Regions from separate parts of the Homo sapiens genome. Here all the other regions are linked to region 1. Evidence: fine-mapped expression QTL. A gene starts in region 1. Each other region holds a variant in brackets. All regions are shown on one strand. Distances are between the middles of the regions. Region 1 holds the start of AFF1 (ALF transcription elongation factor 1). Region 2 overlaps AFF1 (ALF transcription elongation factor 1). Region 3 overlaps AFF1 (ALF transcription elongation factor 1).

What was found. PIP is the estimated chance that this variant, and not a neighbour inherited with it, causes the effect.
Region 2: its variant is fine-mapped to the expression of AFF1 in Th17 cells (Schmiedel 2018, PIP 0.95).
Region 3: its variant is fine-mapped to the expression of AFF1 in whole blood (INTERVAL, PIP above 0.99).

What each region holds. Positions count from the first base shown.
Region 1 is chr4:86,931,947-86,938,953 of GRCh38, forward strand. AFF1 (ALF transcription elongation factor 1) reads left to right here and starts at 3,065. Exons shown (of 21, transcript NM_001166693.3): 1 at 3,065-3,294. It overlaps AFF1-AS1 (AFF1 antisense RNA 1), which reads right to left and starts at 2,904. Exons shown (of 3, transcript NR_038841.1): 1 at 2,541-2,904; 2 at 1,449-1,596. It also overlaps a transcript of C4orf36 not described here. RefSeq lists silencers at 2,770-3,519, 3,990-4,128 and enhancers at 3,441-3,982, 3,983-4,524, 4,380-4,499.
Region 2 is chr4:87,082,437-87,087,436 of GRCh38, forward strand. It overlaps AFF1 (ALF transcription elongation factor 1), which reads left to right. Exons shown (of 21, transcript NM_001166693.3): 5 at 1,684-1,728. Among named protein-coding and RNA genes, the nearest start is that of KLHL8, 140 kb to the right of the region's middle. The variant C/CAATA (reference allele first, on the strand shown) is at 2,114.
Region 3 is chr4:86,957,045-86,962,044 of GRCh38, forward strand. All of the region lies in intron 2 of AFF1 (ALF transcription elongation factor 1), which reads left to right. Among named protein-coding and RNA genes, the nearest start is that of AFF1, 25 kb to the left of the region's middle. RefSeq lists enhancers at 306-355, 883-1,466, 2,176-2,848, 2,849-3,520 and a silencer at 3,693-3,987. The variant T/C (reference allele first, on the strand shown) is at 2,463.

The DNA of each region.
Region 1 (7,007 bases):
ATGGCGTGAACCCGGGAGACGGAGCTTGCAGTGAGCCGAGATTGCACCATTGCACTCCAGCCTGGGCAATAGAGCGAGACTCTGTCTCAAAAAGAAAAAAAAAAAAAAAAAAGATTTATTCCGGGCGTGGTGGCTCACGCCTGTAATCCCAGCACTTTAGGAGGCGAAGATGGGCAGATAACCTGAGGTCCGGAGTTCGAGACCAGCCTGACCAACATGGAGAAACACCCGTCTCTACTAAAAATACAAAATTAGCAGGGCATGGTGGCGCATACCTGTAATCCCAGCTACTCGGGAGGCTGAGGCAGGAGAATCGCTTGAACCCAGGAGGTGGAGGTTGCGGCGAGCTGAGATGGTGCCATTGTACTCCAGCCTGGGGAACAAGAGTGAAACTTCATATCAAAAAAAAAAAAAAAAAAGATTTATTTATATACTTTGCGAGAATAAGTTAATGCCCTTTGAGATATACATGCAGTCATTTGGAGGAACATAATTTAAACTGCTGGCTTAAAATGCTTGGATCTTGCACAACTGCAGAGTTTAGAAGTACTTCAGTTTGACCAAACAGTTGTCCATGTTGTGATGCTGGGCACATTCCTCACCTGCCTCTATCTTAATGTTGTCTTCCCTCCTCATGGGCTGTTTAGGTGCTCTGAGAATACATCCTGTGAGCTTCTATGAGTCCCAGGGGTTTAACTAATTTGTTTTTAAATTTTAAGTAAAATCATGGCTGAAAATTGTCAGGTAACATCCCAGGAGCCCTCATATGAAGAAGCACCTAAAAAGTCCCATCATCATATTTAAAAGGGAGATTTATTTGGGGGGGTGGGGGGGTTCTGTTAAAAAAAAAAAAAAGCACCGATGTCAGAAACATGCTTCATCTTATTAGAAACATAATCTGAAATGTATGAGATTAGGTTGTCAAAATTAAGAAAGTGCTGGAATTTCATTGAGTGTGCTAAAAATGTAATTTAAGAATTCTTGTAAGGAAGATGATGGAGGAAAGTGTAGCTAACAAAGTTAAATATCTGCAACTCCATTACATAATTACTCTCCTTTTGTTTATGTCTGAAATTTAAAAAGTAGATATAAAAAATTTTTTAAAGTAGATATAGTGTAATCACTTTTTAAAATAGCCTTCTTATTGACTATTTATATAAGATGACCAGCAGAAGAGAGAGAAAGGCAACTTAAAAAATAATAATAACTCACTGGCATGGCTATCCTTTTTTATTCATTATCAGAAAATTAATTTGATTTAGTCTTTTTAAATAGCCAGTCACCATTCACGAAATAAATCAACAGAAGTGTGTACTGGAATTATTTACTTGCTTGTTTCTGCCACCACACTGGAATGTCATGAAAATAGGAGCTCTGTCTTTGTCATCAATATGGCTCGTCACCTAGCACATTGCCTTAAGAATATTGATATAAATGGAATGACTTACTCTCTGAACCAAAGCTACATCATCTTCAACAAAATTTTTGCAAAATTACAATCTTCAATTCCAAAGGCAGGAAAATAAAATGATCACACTTCCACTGTCAACATCATTTACTAAGTTGACCACAGTTTGAAGAGCCCTATAGGAGATACTATGGGATGACACAAAAAGAACACAAAAAAGGAAAACATTTTAGATAGAAGTGGTAAAAGTTTTCAGATTATAAAATATTACCATGCTAATATATATTTCACAATGAAATGTATTCATTATATAGCAAAAACGTTAAAATACTTGTTATTGATTAGAATAGAGATCAGTCTCTGTTAGAAACCTTTAAAAGGTGTACAAACACTTTGTAAGAGATGACTCCTGTCCCATCCTGCTCAGGGATGACCAGAACTTTCATCTTAGATAGATACACCACCAGGTTTCATCAGGGACACCTTAATTATTTTAGCTGTCTAGGTAAACCAATCTCCCGATGGGAGGATATGGAGTAGGGCGAAGAGTTATATTTTGGAAAACAATCCATGGGAAATTAAGTCAAGTAGCCAAAGGTTTAATTTGGAAATGCAAATATCCATCAATTAGGTTTTCAATTATGTGGACAATAAAAGAGTTGAGCAGAGCAGTAGAGACAAACAAAATTAAAAAGAGAAAAGGCAGAGAAGGCAGGGAGGGGCTTATTTTCACACATTATACCAATTTACATTACACATCATATTAAATTTAAGTAAGGCGCTTTTCTTCATCCAAATAATTTCACCCATTTTAAACCATAAAATACTGTCGGCGAAATCTCATCTGGGCCATTTGATGTAATCTTTCTGCGTCCCTTTCAGGAAGGAAGGTGCGACAACACAATGAAGACAGCCTGTTGCTTTCCTTGGTATGTTTACAGCAGGAATCGGGCAGCGACTTAACTAGACATAAGTTTCCCCTTCTTCCCATGGGTCTATTTGCCAAAGCCCCCTGCACCTATTAGAATTTTCTGAGGTTGGGCTGGTGGAGAGCAGAAACCCGGAGGCTAGATTCAGGAGACCTGGTTTCCCATGCCACTTAGTAGCCTGTGACATTGAGCACAATACTTACTTTTCGGCGCTTCCGTTTCATTATTTGGGAAATGGGAACAATATATCTGTTTTATAAGATTGTTGTGAAGATGAAACAGGCCTGTGTGTGAAAGGCCTTTTCTAAATTGTAAAGCGCTCCCCAGATGTTAGTTATTATCTCCTTTAAAGGGCACAGAATCTGTTTCAATATTATAGGAGGTTGCAAAAAGGCTCCTTGACACTTTTTGCTCAGAACTTGACCCTGAGCTTAATCTCGCCGTAAAGTGAAAGGGTTCTTGCGCCCCCACAGCAGCCCGGGGCAGGGTCACCCTCGCGACCGGGGCGGTCATTGCCGTATTCCGTCCTGAGCTGCCGCTCCCCCACGATCCTCCCACCAATCCCGGGAGGGCCGCGACGTCCCTTGCCGCTTGGGTGGCGCCAGCTAGAGGGCGCGGGCCGGGGCGGAACCCGGTACCGCAGCTCGGGAGGTGGGGGTGGGGGCGGGGCCTCGCGCGGAGGGCGTGGCCTCGGGGCGTCCCGGGCAGCCGGCGTGCTGAGCTTGCCAGCCAGCTAGCGAGCGACGGGCGCGCGCGGCCCCTGCGCACTCGGCCGCCGCCTGCGCGCGTTGCGGCCGCAGCTGCACCTTTGCCTCCGCGGTTCCGCAGCCGAGCCCCGGGAGGAGGCGCTCCCCTGCGTCGTCCGCACTTGCGCCCTTTCCCACCGCAACAGGTCAGGGGAGGGCGGAGGTGACGAGGGCGCCCGACCCGGGACTAGAGGACGGAAGGGTCTGGAAGGTGAGCGCAGCCCTGCGCCACCCAGGGCTGGGGGTCGATCCGCCCGGCCCCCGACGCCGCCGCCGCGGACTTCTCGGAAGCCGAGGCTCTCCCCGCCTCTCTGCCGGCTTCCCAGCACGCTGACTCAAGTCGCTGGCGTTCCCACTTTTCCGGTGGGAGCCCTCGGGGAGAACGGGCTAGGGCTCAGAGCTCTCACCGCCCTACTTGCGATCCCGCGGCAGGTAGCGCGTAGAAAAACAGGGGACGGGGACATGGGAAGAGACCCATGCTCCTCCCTCACGCGCAGCCCCCAAGTCAGACGTTTGCCTGTGCACCCCGCGTTTTGCGGAGAGCTGTCCCGTTGTTGGGACCTGCTACTTGAGTTGCGTAATGAGTCCCAGAAGTTTCTCGGGGGGAGGGGGCGGGGAAAAGTGGGGTTCTTCTCTCCTGCACCCCGGGACCCTTCCCTGTGCCTGTCGTGGAGAGAGATGAGGGCTTCCCGCCGCGTCTCGCTGAGAGCAGGAGGGAGGCGTGTGTCGGTGGTCCGTAGCCTCCGGGGAGGAGTTGGAGCCACCTTCTGAGACTTAACTTCAGGGACAGAGGGAGAGGCGTCTTTAGTATGGGACTGGTTAATTTCTCTTGATAATGCTTTTTTCCCTCGGGTGTCCCATCCTCTGTGGCCGTCGCAACCCCACCCTCCGACGGTGCGAGCGCCGGAGCCAGCGAATGAGAGGGGAGAGAAGGTGGAGAGTGTGAATCACACGTTACCTTAGTGTAATGGTAGTTGCATTAATGGAGCTGCGACGGGCCTGCGGGCGGTTCGATACCGTCCGGCTAGTTTTCTCTTCCCGGAGCTTCTCCACCACCAGCACCCGCAAATTGTTATGCAGATCATCCCGGGAAGGCACTTGGCTTTGGAGGTGGAGATGTGTCCGAATCTCCCTTGAACCAGTCTCTGTTAGGGGGAAAGGCCTTGCAGCCAAGTGATTTGTTTTAAGGGTGGAGCCGGAGATAATTTTAAACACCCTCCCCCTTGGTGCACGTTGCGGGGTGTGACTCACCACGGGGAAATCAGACTGATTTAAAACCTTCAGTGCAAACTTGTAAATTAAGGCGAAGACCCAGTGTTCCCTGGGACAGTTGCAAAGTGAGAAGAGCTCAGAAACTGAAGCACAGAAACGTTAGGTAGGAGTCTGAGAGGCGTGGAGAATTTTGCTTGTGCAAGATTATTTCAGAGCAAGGTCGTGCGGTGTGTGTAGAAGGTAGGTGGCCGTGGGTTACCTCTCTCAGACCTGCGTGGTGTTGGCCTCTGGGTGGGGATAAAAGTCACGAAAAAGACCTTTGGACCCAGAGTCTAGTTTTTTTTCTTTGGGGCCGAAGAATACCTAGGCATGGCCCTGTTTCAGTGTTTACTTCCTCTGTCTAATGTATTTCCTTAGCTCGCCTTTCATCTTTAGTGGGAAGGATTACTTGAGTGGATATTCCGGAAGTAGATTCACAGGAGAATGGAAAATTCTGGATGGTTTGCTTGCTTTAATTTCAAGGTGTTGTCTCTTGTGGATGTTGGGAAGTATTGTACTTGAATATTTGAAGATAAATATGGAGAAAAGCAGTGGTGAGAACTAAAGGAAAATGATCCAAGGGGAGATGAGAGAAAGCAACAAAATACATAAGTAGTACGTAAAACTAGAGAAACTCACTGGAATTAAGCCATTTTTATGGAGAGAAAGAACCAAGGAAATAATTTGGGATAGATTTGGTCACTTTGAGACAAATAGAGATTGAAGAGTGGGACTTTTGGGGAAAATGAGTTTAGATATTGGAGACTTTTCTTTTTTCAAATATAACTTACAAGGATGTTGAGGCTGGAGATGTGAGACTTGCAGGTATGTTGCTGTGAATTCTTTGCTTTTCACCTGCAAGAAAATGAACTGTTAAATATTAATCTGCCTTATTCACTGTAACAATTGAATTTGTGGCTTTGGCATTTGCTTAACTCTTCAACTTTGCAAAACTATAATTTTGAAGAATCACAGTGTGTTAAATTAGAATACAAAGATCATTTAGAGATTGAAAATTTATGACAAAAGTCCAGGCCATTGTAAACATTGCTTTCTCCTACATGCGTAACAGGCATGCATTTTTTGCCACCAGAATCACTAATCTACTATAGGGTAATAAGACTATATCAAAACTAGCTGTCTCTTCTGTTTCCTCTCCGGTTTAACTGAATTTTGCAGAGCTGGTTGAGGTGAAAGTTACTTTTTTAATTGACTGAGAACTTGCTTAATTAGGTTTTGGATTAAATTTGGAAGAGACTATTCAATTAAAATACATATATATTTATCAGGCACCTTTACAAGTCACTTTATTTATTTTTGAGACAGGTTCTCACTCTGTCACTTAGGCTGGAGTGCGGTGGCACGATCATAGCTCACTGCAACCTCCAACTCCTGGGCTCATGGGATCCTCCCTCCTCAGCCTCCCAAATAGCTGGGATTACAAGCATATGCCACCATGCCCGGCTAATTTAAAAAATCTTTTGGTAGAGATGGCTTGGGGTGGGGGTGGGGGTGGGGGGCTCCCTATGTTACCCAGGTGGGTCTTGAACTCCTGGCTCAAGCAGTCCTCCCACTTTTGCCTCCTCAAGTGCTGAGATTACAGGTGGAAGCCACCGTGCCTGGCCTACAAGTCACTTTAGCCAGGTGATTGTTTAGTTGAAGTTTCATATTGCCTTGAAAGTTGAAAAGAGGGGTGAAAAAATTGAGCTTAGAAAGGGTAAACTTGTTTTCAATATTTTTTGAAAAGCTGATGGAAGGAGTTCTATGTTCAACTCTGTAATTTGTGGGCCCAAAGTTCCTTTATTTCAAGGCTCTAGACCATTAACTAATTTTTTGGGAGATTGAGAAAGTATGTTAGAGAGAGTGCAAATTAAGGAACCTCATTGGGGCCAGGTGTGGTGGCTCACGCCTGTAATCCCAACACTTTGGGAGGCTGAGGCGAGCGGATCACTTGAGGTCAGCGGTTCTGGACCAGCCTGACCAATATGGGGAAACCCCATCTCTACTAAAAATACAAAAAGTAGCTGGGCATGATGGCGTGCTCCTGTAATTACGCTTCCTCGGGAGGCTAAGGCAGGAAAGTCGCTTGAACCCAGGAGGCGGAGGTTGCAGTGAGCCGAGATTGCACTGCTGCACTCCAGCCTGGGCCACAGAGCAAGACTCCGTCTCAAAAAAAAAAAAAAAAAAGAAAAGGAAAAAAGTAAGTGTATTTACCATAAATATACAGAGTTTGATTAGTGATATTTTCCTCAAATAATAAATTCAACAATGGTTTCTGAAGTTTAATTGGCAGTTGCTTTCTAGTAGTCTCTTTTTTTAAGACACAGTAGAAGCTTATTTAATAGTGTTGATTTGGATCTTAGATTTTAAAATAGATTACATAAACTCTGTAATCCATTTATTAAAATTCTACCACAGCATGGAAATAAATGTGAAATATGTGGCTCTTTGTAGGTACACATCCATTATTCATGATTGTTTATATCTGGACAACAGATTGTTATAGACTTGACACCATGAGACCCCAAGGTCATCAGGGTTGCTAATAGGAGTTTCTGTTGTATGCCTTAGGACAGAACTTCAGTAGTATTCCCGAAGGGAAGAAAATCAGCTGATTTTCTTAAATTATCTGGCCCATTTTAAACATGACTAAGGATTTCTTGCTAGAGTGAC
Region 2 (5,000 bases), 150 kb after region 1:
AGGGACACCCTTGATTCTCTTTGGTTATACCTGACTTCAAGACTCTTTCCAGGAAATTTACATGTTTTAAAAACAGACTGCATCTGAATTTTTTTTTAATTTTTAAATTTTATTTTTAAATTTTTGTCTGTTTTGAAACTGGGTTACGAGACTGGCTAATTTTTGTATTTTTGGTAGAGATGGGGTTTTGCCATGATGCCCAGGCTGCTCTCAGACTCCTGGGCTCAGGCAATCTGCCCGCCTCGGCCTCCCAAAGTGCTGGGATTACAGGTGTGAGCCAGCACACCTGGCCTACATCTGAATTTTGACATTAGATTCAATTACAGGACGGTGTGAATGTTTGTATGCTCTATTTCCTTTTTCTTCATCCATGGAGTGAATTGGAATGAGGGAAATGGTAGATTAATAAACCCTAGATTGCAAATTAGCAACCAGTTCTATATTAAATTACACATAAATTAGAACCAAGAACAGGAAAGAACCCCTTGCCATCTGTTCTCTAGCTGCGAGGTAGGTATTAAATGGACCAAAAAGAGCAGAGTTTTATGCATAGCAGTGGCAGTAATGGGAAAGTCATATGTTGTATAGTACTTGCTGTACTGTGCCCATGATGCCTGGCTCATGAATTGACACAGAGCAAGTTGCTATTCCATTGAAAACCATATGTTCCATGTCTCTAGTTCAGAAAAAATAATTGATTTTAATTTAACTTTGCCTACTTTCTTTGCTCTTAAAAATATGTAGACTGTAAAATGTCATTCCCTAGGCACTGTCTGGTGGTGATACCAGCAGCAGCAATAATCATTATTTGTTTAGCTGGGTATTAGGAAGAGGTAGAAATAGTAGATCTTTCCTCTAAGACAATAATTAATCTCCTCTACCCTTACAGTCTTTCTCTGAAAAAAACTTTGTGTGCGTCTGTGTATGTATATATGCATGTATGTATAAAGTGAAATGCTGACTTTAAGTGAGATATTTTTAACTTTAAAATGAATTTTGGCAGGCTAGCATATAAAAATAATGAAGAGTTATCCTTGATTGGACTTAGCTCCTTACTTTCGACCCACTAATGTGTTCAGATGATCATCATCTTTGTCTTCATTTAATGTGGCTTATTGGTTAGCTGTTGCTATGAGGTAGCTGACTGTGGCACCTATTCTAATCTTATTTTGTACATCTCTTATTCCCTAGGTTTACTAATATACTAATTTTCTTTAATAAAGAAATTTTAGAAACTTTTAACCTGAGGGTCAACAGTTAGTCTGCCATTGTCTCCATCATTACTGTGTTTCCCCACAAGATTCAGTTAGATTAATCTCTCTGGTCTTATTTCATCCAAATGTAAAGTTGTTGTTGTTTTATATATATACAGCCAGAGTGCAGTGGCATGATCTTGGCTCACTGCAGCCTCCACCTCCCTGGCTCATGTGATCCTCCTGCCTCTACCTCCTGAGTAGCTGGGATCACAGGCATGCACCACCATGCATGGCTAATTTTTATATTGCTTTTGGTAGAAATGGGGTTTTGCCATGTTGCCCAGGCTTCAAATGTAAAGTTCTTAATACTTAGCTAGTAGAAGGTAAGCCTTGAGATGAGTATTGCTGCATTAATACAGTCATCCACCAGTACCATCACTCTTGACTCTGGTTTGCTAACCTTTTATTTTTTGCTTTTCACTTTCAGCAGACCTACTCCAATGAAGTCCATTGTGTTGAAGAGATTCTGAAGGTGAGTTCACTGTTAATCTTTCTCATTTGAAGAAATATTTAAGTAGGTAGGCGTACATCCATTTACTTTCACTTTAAAGAACAGTTGCCATTGGCTGGGTGCGGTGGCTCATGCCTGTAATCCTAGCACTTTGGGAGGCCAAGGTGGGCGGATTGCTTGAGCTCCGGAGTTCACGACCAGCCTGGACAACATAGCAAAACCCCGTATCTACTAAGAAAAATACAAAAAATTAGCCAGGAGTGGTGGCACATGCCTGTAGTCCCAGCTACTCAGGAGGCTGAGTCAGGCCTCCTGAACTCGATTGAACCCGAGAGGTGGAGGCTGCTGTGAGCTGAGATCACGCCACTGCACTCCAGCCTGGGCAACAGAGTTGAAACTATGTCTC[C/CAATA]AATAAATAAATAAATAAATAAATAAATAAATAAATAAATAAATAAATAAATAAAAAATAAAGAACAGTTGTTGTTCCCAAACCCCTTTTAACCATTTCTCCCCCACTCATCTCCAAAGGCAAAAATAAACCAGAATAGTAACAGAAGTAGTCTTGGAACGTAATTGAATTCTCTACCAGATTTTATTAATTAAATTGAAGTCTACAAACTGCAAGACATTTGGACCAGATTTTTATGGCATCTCTCGTTAAGTTTTTCTGGTTGTCCATAAAGGCCCAGGAGAGTTGCTCACTTCCCAGAGAGGAAACTTCCTGTATTGATGTGTGGGAGGCACCAGTGGTTAAACAGTGCTTGATTTATACCTCTTGGCGTTCTGTAGGTGATACCTAATACCTATGGCCTCATACATACAGCCTTTTCTTCAGTGAGACGATGAAATTTTAAAGGAATGAAAGAAAAATAGTGGGAAGTAGATGGTCATCTTTAGACTTACCTTGAAGGATTACTTTTTGCTTTTGTTTATTGAAACTATGCCATGAACATTTGTGCTTCCACAAATATGTCATTGAATACATTACCCACTTGTTCAATTTTTCTTGTACAAGGATGACAGATTCCTTCTAGAACTTAATTCCAGGGGAAAAATGTTAACTTTCCTCATGAACTGGCATTCTTTCTTTTTATCAGAGAAGAATTATATATAATGTTTCCCATTTTGCCTTTAATTTCCAGGAAACCCAGAGCTTAATTTTAATGCTCAGGTACAGTAATTGTAAAAACTGAGGGTTTTGTGTATTTTTTATCCCTCTTCTGTGGCCTTTAATTTGCTTCTAGGTCAATTTTAATGATATTCTTGTCTTTTACTGTAGGGTTTCTGACTTTTTTCTTCTTTTTTTTTTTTAATTAGTAGAGAGATGTATATAATAAATGTGACTGTTAATTTGAATCACTATTGCTCATATTTTCTCAAAATACATTTACTCAATTTTAGTTTTTTAACTTTTCATTTTAAAGTATTAAGTGATGGTGGTACTAAAACCAGTAATTAAGTATATTGGTTATTTCCTCACTTGTGAAATTTTTGACAGTAGTAGTATCTAACCAGTTGTTTGGAAAACAGCTTGTTTTTGTTTCACAGTCTTTTGTCCCATTTTGTAGTTAGGGTTTTCTGAGAAAGAAAGAACCTCTAGAGAAACATACCTTTTTTTTTTTTTTTGAGACAGAGTCTCTCTCTGTCGCTCAGGCTGGGCGTGACCTTGGCCACTGCAATCTCCACCTCCTGGGTTCAAGCGATTCTTGTGCCTCAGCCACCCAAGTAGCCGGGATTACAGGTGTGCGCCAGTACGCCCTGCTAATTTTTGTATTTTTAGTAGAGACGGTGTTTCACCATCTTGGCCAGGCTGGTCTCAAATGCCTGACCTCAAGTGATCCACCCGCCTCAGCCCCTCAAAGTGTTGGGATTACAGGCGTGAGCCACCGTACCTGGCTGAGAAACATACTTTGAACTGCTAACAGTGAGGAATTTTTGTCAACCAGCATGTAAGATTAAATAAGTTACCTCGATTACATTTTTTATCATCCTTTTCCTCTTCTGTTTCTGAAATTTGTTGGTATGGTAAGTCGTAAACATACTAAGGAATTTAATTATATACTGTGGCCTTGGCATTTCCTCTGAAATTGTGCGTTATTTGTTCTATCATTATTTCAGAAGTAAATGCAACAGTGCAGGTTTGTTGTCTTCTGCATATGTCAGATGCTCCTCTTAGGTTTCGGTGTGTGTTGAAATAAGACATGTCACATCCTTTATTTAGGAATGGTGGTATTACAGCACCAGACAAGCATCTTTAATTGAAGGAACCCATCCGTCCTCCTTCCCTTCCCACCCAGGATCACGTTAGTGAATCCTTGCTTACCTCGAAATGCTTGAGAGAGAGTGGTTAATGTATAAATCATGCCCATTTATGATTTGGAAATCATAACTTGGGAAAGCAAACAGAAGGACGTCCAGGACTGAACAGGCCATAGGCCTTTTCATATTGGAGTCTGCCCCTTCTCTTCTGTCTGTGACCTCAGTTAAGTTATAGGTCGCTGCTGGGCTTTGGTTTCCTCATTGGTAAAATGAAGGCCCTGGGCTAGCGGATGATCTCCAGGGTCCATTCCAGCTCTTACTCTTGACGCTGACCCAGATGCTACTTTCCTTTGCCTCCCGGTTCCCGTTCTCATCTTGTACCAGCAATTTATTAAGATTGCCAGGAATCCAAACACAAATCTTTCTGATGGGTGATAGAGGCAGTAAGTAGTTTCCTAACAGAGAAAATCAATCATAGAAGATAATGTTTGGTTCTCTGGGGTCAGTATTTAAGGGGGAAGTGTTGTAATGAAGGGGAAGTGGTGGCCCATAACTCCAGCAGGCTAATGGAGTAAGAAGATAGCAGACATACACTGTTAGTTTTCAGGGAATGGTCATGCACTAGGGTCTAGAAAGGGCAACATGCCCTTGGTGGGTGCATGGAGACACCTCAGATTTTCTACTTACAGGCAAGCCTGGCCTCCACAGTATCTTGGGGGATTAATGTGGTACCAGCAAGCATTACCTCAGTGCAGCATTTCCATGATGCTAGTACAATGAGTGGTAGCACTATTTATATGTTCATTTGTTTATTCAACAAATACTTGTTAAGCCTCCACAGCACTAGGATGTTGTAGTGAATAAGACAGAGTGCTTGCTTTCATGGAGATCAGAGTAGGGAAGAGAAATACATAGTGTTGGGTGTTGATGGTGCTGTGAATAATGCAACAGGCCAGTAAACAGAAGGCTAGGCAGAGGGAAGAACTGGTGGAAAATCCTCGAGGTGGTATCAAGTTGGTGTATTAGAGGAACAATTA
Region 3 (5,000 bases), 24 kb after region 1:
CTGAGAGTTGGAGGAGAATGAATTAATATTAATAATTATTTTGTGCCTTCAGTATAGTGGACACTAGTCCAGGCATTTGGCATTATATCATTTTAGGTGCTAAACTTGGTCCAGGTGGTAGATAAGATGAACACTGAGTTGAATTGCTGGGGATAACATTGTCTTTGTAGGGATACTAATTTTATACTGTCTTGATGTGGGAAAGAACCATTTTTCTTTCTGGAGGCCTTCCATTATAACAGTACTTTTCTTCTGAAGCCATACTAGTCAGCCTACTTTAGGAAGAAGAGAATTTCAGTTCCAGTTTCTCCTGTTTTGCAGAAGCTGGGGAACCATTATTTCAAAATCTGAGTCATGTTTTCTATGCTCTGTAAGGTATTCATATCAGTAGCCTAATTTTACTGGAGAAAGCAAAAGCCTGGAGAGACCTTCATAGCTGAGTATGTGAATCAGACTGTGGGGAATGCTGGGGCAACTAGTTCATTTTTGGTTGGAAATTTTTTTTTCTTTTTTCTTGAGATGGAATCTCACTCTGTTGCCCAGGCTGGAGTGCAGTGTTGTGATCTCCGCTCACTGCAACCTCTGCCTCTTGGGTTCAAGCAATTCTCCTGCCCCAGCCTCCCAAGTATCTGGGACTACAGGTGCATGCCACCACACCTGGCTAATTTTTTATTTTTAATAGAGACAGGGTTTCACCATGTTGGCCAGGCTGGTCTCAAACTCCTGACCTCAGGTGATCCTCCCACCTCAGCCTCCCAAAGTGCTGGGATTACAGGCGTGAGCCACCATGCCCAGCCCTGAGCCACTGCGCCTAGCCTGATTTTGCCATACTTAAAAAAACAAACAAACAACTATCCTTTTTCCTCTTTTTCTTTGCTGAACTATTTTAAAGCAAATTCCATTTCACTTCTTCATACTTTATGTGCATCTCTAAAAATATATGGACATTTCCCTACTTAAATACATACCCGTCTCACACCTAATAAAATTAACATCTTGGATTCGTCTAATACCTAGTCTATCTCTGAACTTTTTCTTTTTTTTTCCTTTTTTTTTTTTTTTTTTTGAAACGGAGTTTCACTCTTGTTGCCCAAGCTGGAGTGCAGTGGTGCCATCTGGGCTCACTGCAACTTCCACCTCTCAGGTTCAAGCAATTCTTCTGCCTCAGCCTCCCGAGTAGCTGAGATTACAGGTGCACATCACCATGCCTGGCTAATTTTTTGTATTTTTAGTAGAAACGGGGTTTCACCATGTTAGGCTGGTCTCAAACTCCTGACCTCAAGTGATCTGCCCAACTCAGCCTCCCAAAGTGCTGGGATTACAGGCGTGAGTCACCGTGCCCGGCCCCAAACTTTCTAGATTGTTTTAAAATGTCTTTTAAAATTGTTTTTAGCCAGGTGCGGTGGCTCATGCCTGTAATTCCAGCATTTTGGGAGGCCACGGTGGGTAAATCACCTGAGGGTCAGGAGTTCGAGACCAGCCTGACCTACATGGTGAAACCCCGTCTCTACTGAAAATAAAAAATTAGCCGGGTGTGGTGGTACGTGCCTGTAGTCCCAGCTACTCGGGAGGCTGAGGCAGGCGAACCACTTCAACCCAGGAGGCAGAGGTTGCAGTGAGCCGAGATTGTGCCACTGCACTCCAGCCTGGGAGACAGAGTAAGACTCTCTCAAAAAAATAAAATAAAATAAATAATAAATAATAAAATTGTCTTCATCTTGATCCAAGGAAACCAAAGTTCACATATTGCATTAGGTTTTGTTTCTTGAGTCTTAATCCAGAGCAGCATTTACTCTATTTACTTGTGGGGTGGGAGCATTTACTAGTTAAGGAAACAGTTGCATGTATGTCCTACTTCTTGGATTTGTTTGTTTCCTATTAATGCGTTTAACTTGTTTCGATATAGCAGTAGTTCTCAACGGAGGACAATTTTGTCTCCCTCTCTTCCAGGGGACATTTGACAATGTCTAGAGAGATTTTTAGTCATCACAATCTAGTGAGTAGAGGCCAGGGATGTTATTAAACATCTACAATGCACAGAACAGCCCCCACCACAAATAATTTCCTGGTTTCTAATGTCAATAGTGCTGAGATTGAGAAACTGTCAGCCTATCCCATGTATTTCCTGAAGAATGGAAGTTAGCACTAAAAGCTTGGTTAGAGTCAAGATAACTCTTTTTGCTTAAAATAGTTAAATTGCCCAGGAGTGCCGGTATTCTGTTTTGATCTGGGTGTTGGTTACAAGAGTATATCATTTTGTGAAAATTTATATGTGAGCTCTACACTTTAAAAAATGTGTGTTATTTTTAATTTTAAAAGTTTACATTAAAAAAAGAAACCTCTTTATTGTGTTGGGTCCCTTCCTCTTTTTGTCTGCTACTTCACACTTCTTAAATAGTTGAATAAATCTTTAAAGCCTCACTCCCTTTTAAAGTTCCTTAATACTCTTTTTTTTTTTTTTT[T/C]CCCAATGTGAGAGACTGGTAGAGATGGGGGAAAAAATGGGTGCCTTTTGAACTCATTGTTGGGATGGTTGAGTGTCTGTTAGGGAAGTCAGAGTGCTGGTACTTTCCTTGCTCTGCAGAAAATTGCAGAGTTGCCCTAAGGGAGGGACACCTAAACGATAAGTAACGTTAGGCCACTTGGGTTTTGTGTAAAGCTGAAAGGAGAAAGTCATTCCAGATGGGATGGTTTGAAAGCAGAGGTTGGCTTTCATGAGCTGTGGAATTTGGGAAAGGGGCATTCTGGGCTGAAAGAACCAGGGAAGGTAAGGAATGCATTAGGGGTGTGCTGGGAACCTTTTCTTGAGCGATGTCTTAAAGCCAGCTTCTCTTCTCTGTCTCTGATAAATAATTGGAAGGAAAGGCAATGAATTTTTTTCTGACAGTTGGTTCTAACTGGGGGCCAGGGCCTCGTTTGCAAATGAAAGGACTGCTGTTGGAGTAGTTGAAATCACAATGGGCCCTGACTCTTTTCACATCAAAGTGTAAAAGAATCTCCAGGGGTGATAAATGGGGGCTGCTGGACTCATTACTTGTAAACAAAGCTGAGGGATGACCTCTACATTTTTTTTTAATTAAAGGAAAACAGGGTTTCCTAGTGGTGAGCATGGGGCTGCTCTTCGTTTGAATTTTGACTGTTCACACTGGAAAAGATCTTTCTTTAAGGTTACAAGGGAGCTGCCGCTGTTACCCAGGATTTACCCTGAATCTCAAACACTACTGGAAAAATGCTGTGCCTAGGACGGCCCAGCAGGTATCCTGCATGTGTTGAGAATTGAAGTGCAGTGGGTTCCGCTGCGTTGTTACAGTAAAGTGGAACAGGGCAGAATTTCTGAGTGCTGCTCCTCTCAGGAGACTGAGGGCTCCTTTACTCCTTTTCCCACCCGACATCAGGAGGAAAACTCCTTTATTCCTGTGCAGTGTAGAAAAAGGTCCGTTTTTAAGTAAATTCTTAGCTCTTTGTAAAAGAAGTCCAAAGGCAGTGGTTTTAGAGTTTAAAGATAGTATTTCTTTATATTTGTGTAGTTACAAGGCTTTGAGTATGATCAAAACGTTTAACCAAAACTAAAGTATGTGCATACTTTATGGTGTTGAAAGCAATGCTACTAAAAATAGTACAACATTTTATGGGATTAAGATTGCAAATTGCTGCCTAAATTCAGCTTGCAGTTAAGGCCTACCTTCAGTAAACTCTCGTTGTGTAGTCAGCTCCCCACCAAGCTTATCTCTTGCTGTTTTTCCACTTGGCTCCTCTGTTGCAGTCAGTCCAAGCCCTACCAGATTTTAAACAACTGGAGGTCAGAGACTGCCCTTTGTAACCTGAGTGGAACTGGTAAGGCACTGGGCACCCAAGAATTCTAATGTGTTTACTGACTTTCCACATGTTTAGTAATCACCTTCTGAGCCTATCTTCCAAGCAAGTTGTAAGACTTGAGAAAGGAGCAGAGGTCACAGCTGGCAAGGAGCACAGCATCCCTGGATGGTTGACAGAGACAAGCTATCCTCCAGATGAAATATTTCCAACTACAGATGAGAGTATTGAAGGCCTTCCATTCCCCTTTGATATCAGAATGGTGAGAATGTGGGAGACACCACCAGTTAACCCTGCCTTCATGAGTACAGATACCCATGAAAATATTTAATAAGCGCAGTGACCAGACGAGACCTGTGCTAAGTATTTGATAGGCATGCTTTCAATCTCGTAACTCCCTATGAGGTTATGTTTTACAGATGAAAAAGGGAAAAGGAAGATACTCATCAGTGGCTAGCTTCCTTCCATCACCGAACCCTCAAGTCCCTGTTCCCTTTTTGTCTTTGTAGAAGCTGGTGGCAGGGATATACTTTCTGAGCTCTGGTTTAAAACTCTGAGTTTTGGGCCACAGATCCCCTCTAGCTGACTCTTCTTTTTTGACATGAATGAGATAAAAAGTTGTTCCTGGGAGATAGTTTCAGCATGGCTACAGTAGTCAGAGAAACGTGCATCTTTTCCAGTGAAGGAACAAAGCTGATTTCTTTGCACTGGGGCATAGTGGGGGTGTGGGAAGGGGGGGCTGAGTGATGGGAATAGGGGTCACTACTGAGTCATATGGCAGGAAAAAGATGAAAAGATTAGTTACCCAAAAAAAAAAAAATTAAGGAATGGAGGTGGTTCCCATCCTAAATTAGAATCTCCCCAGTTTGCGTTTCAGAGCCCTTTTCATCGCCGTGGTGAGATGATGTGTGCTCTCTCAGAGCACTTTGTGGTCTGTTACAGCATTGCACAGATGTCAGGTGGCTGCCCTGTTAATAAATCAACCTCTCAACGGTTAGAAGTTGTAGCAGTTCTCGTTTTAGATTATCTTTCTACATCCGGCAGAGGCTTACTGTCCCCCGCAGAGCACTTGGTAAACGAGATATGAAATTGTCCTTTAAGAATGGAGGTTTAATTTTCCAGTAGGACAGAGTATTCAATAAATGAGAGTGGAGACTATATTTTATTTGTCTAAAATATATGTTTTTTAA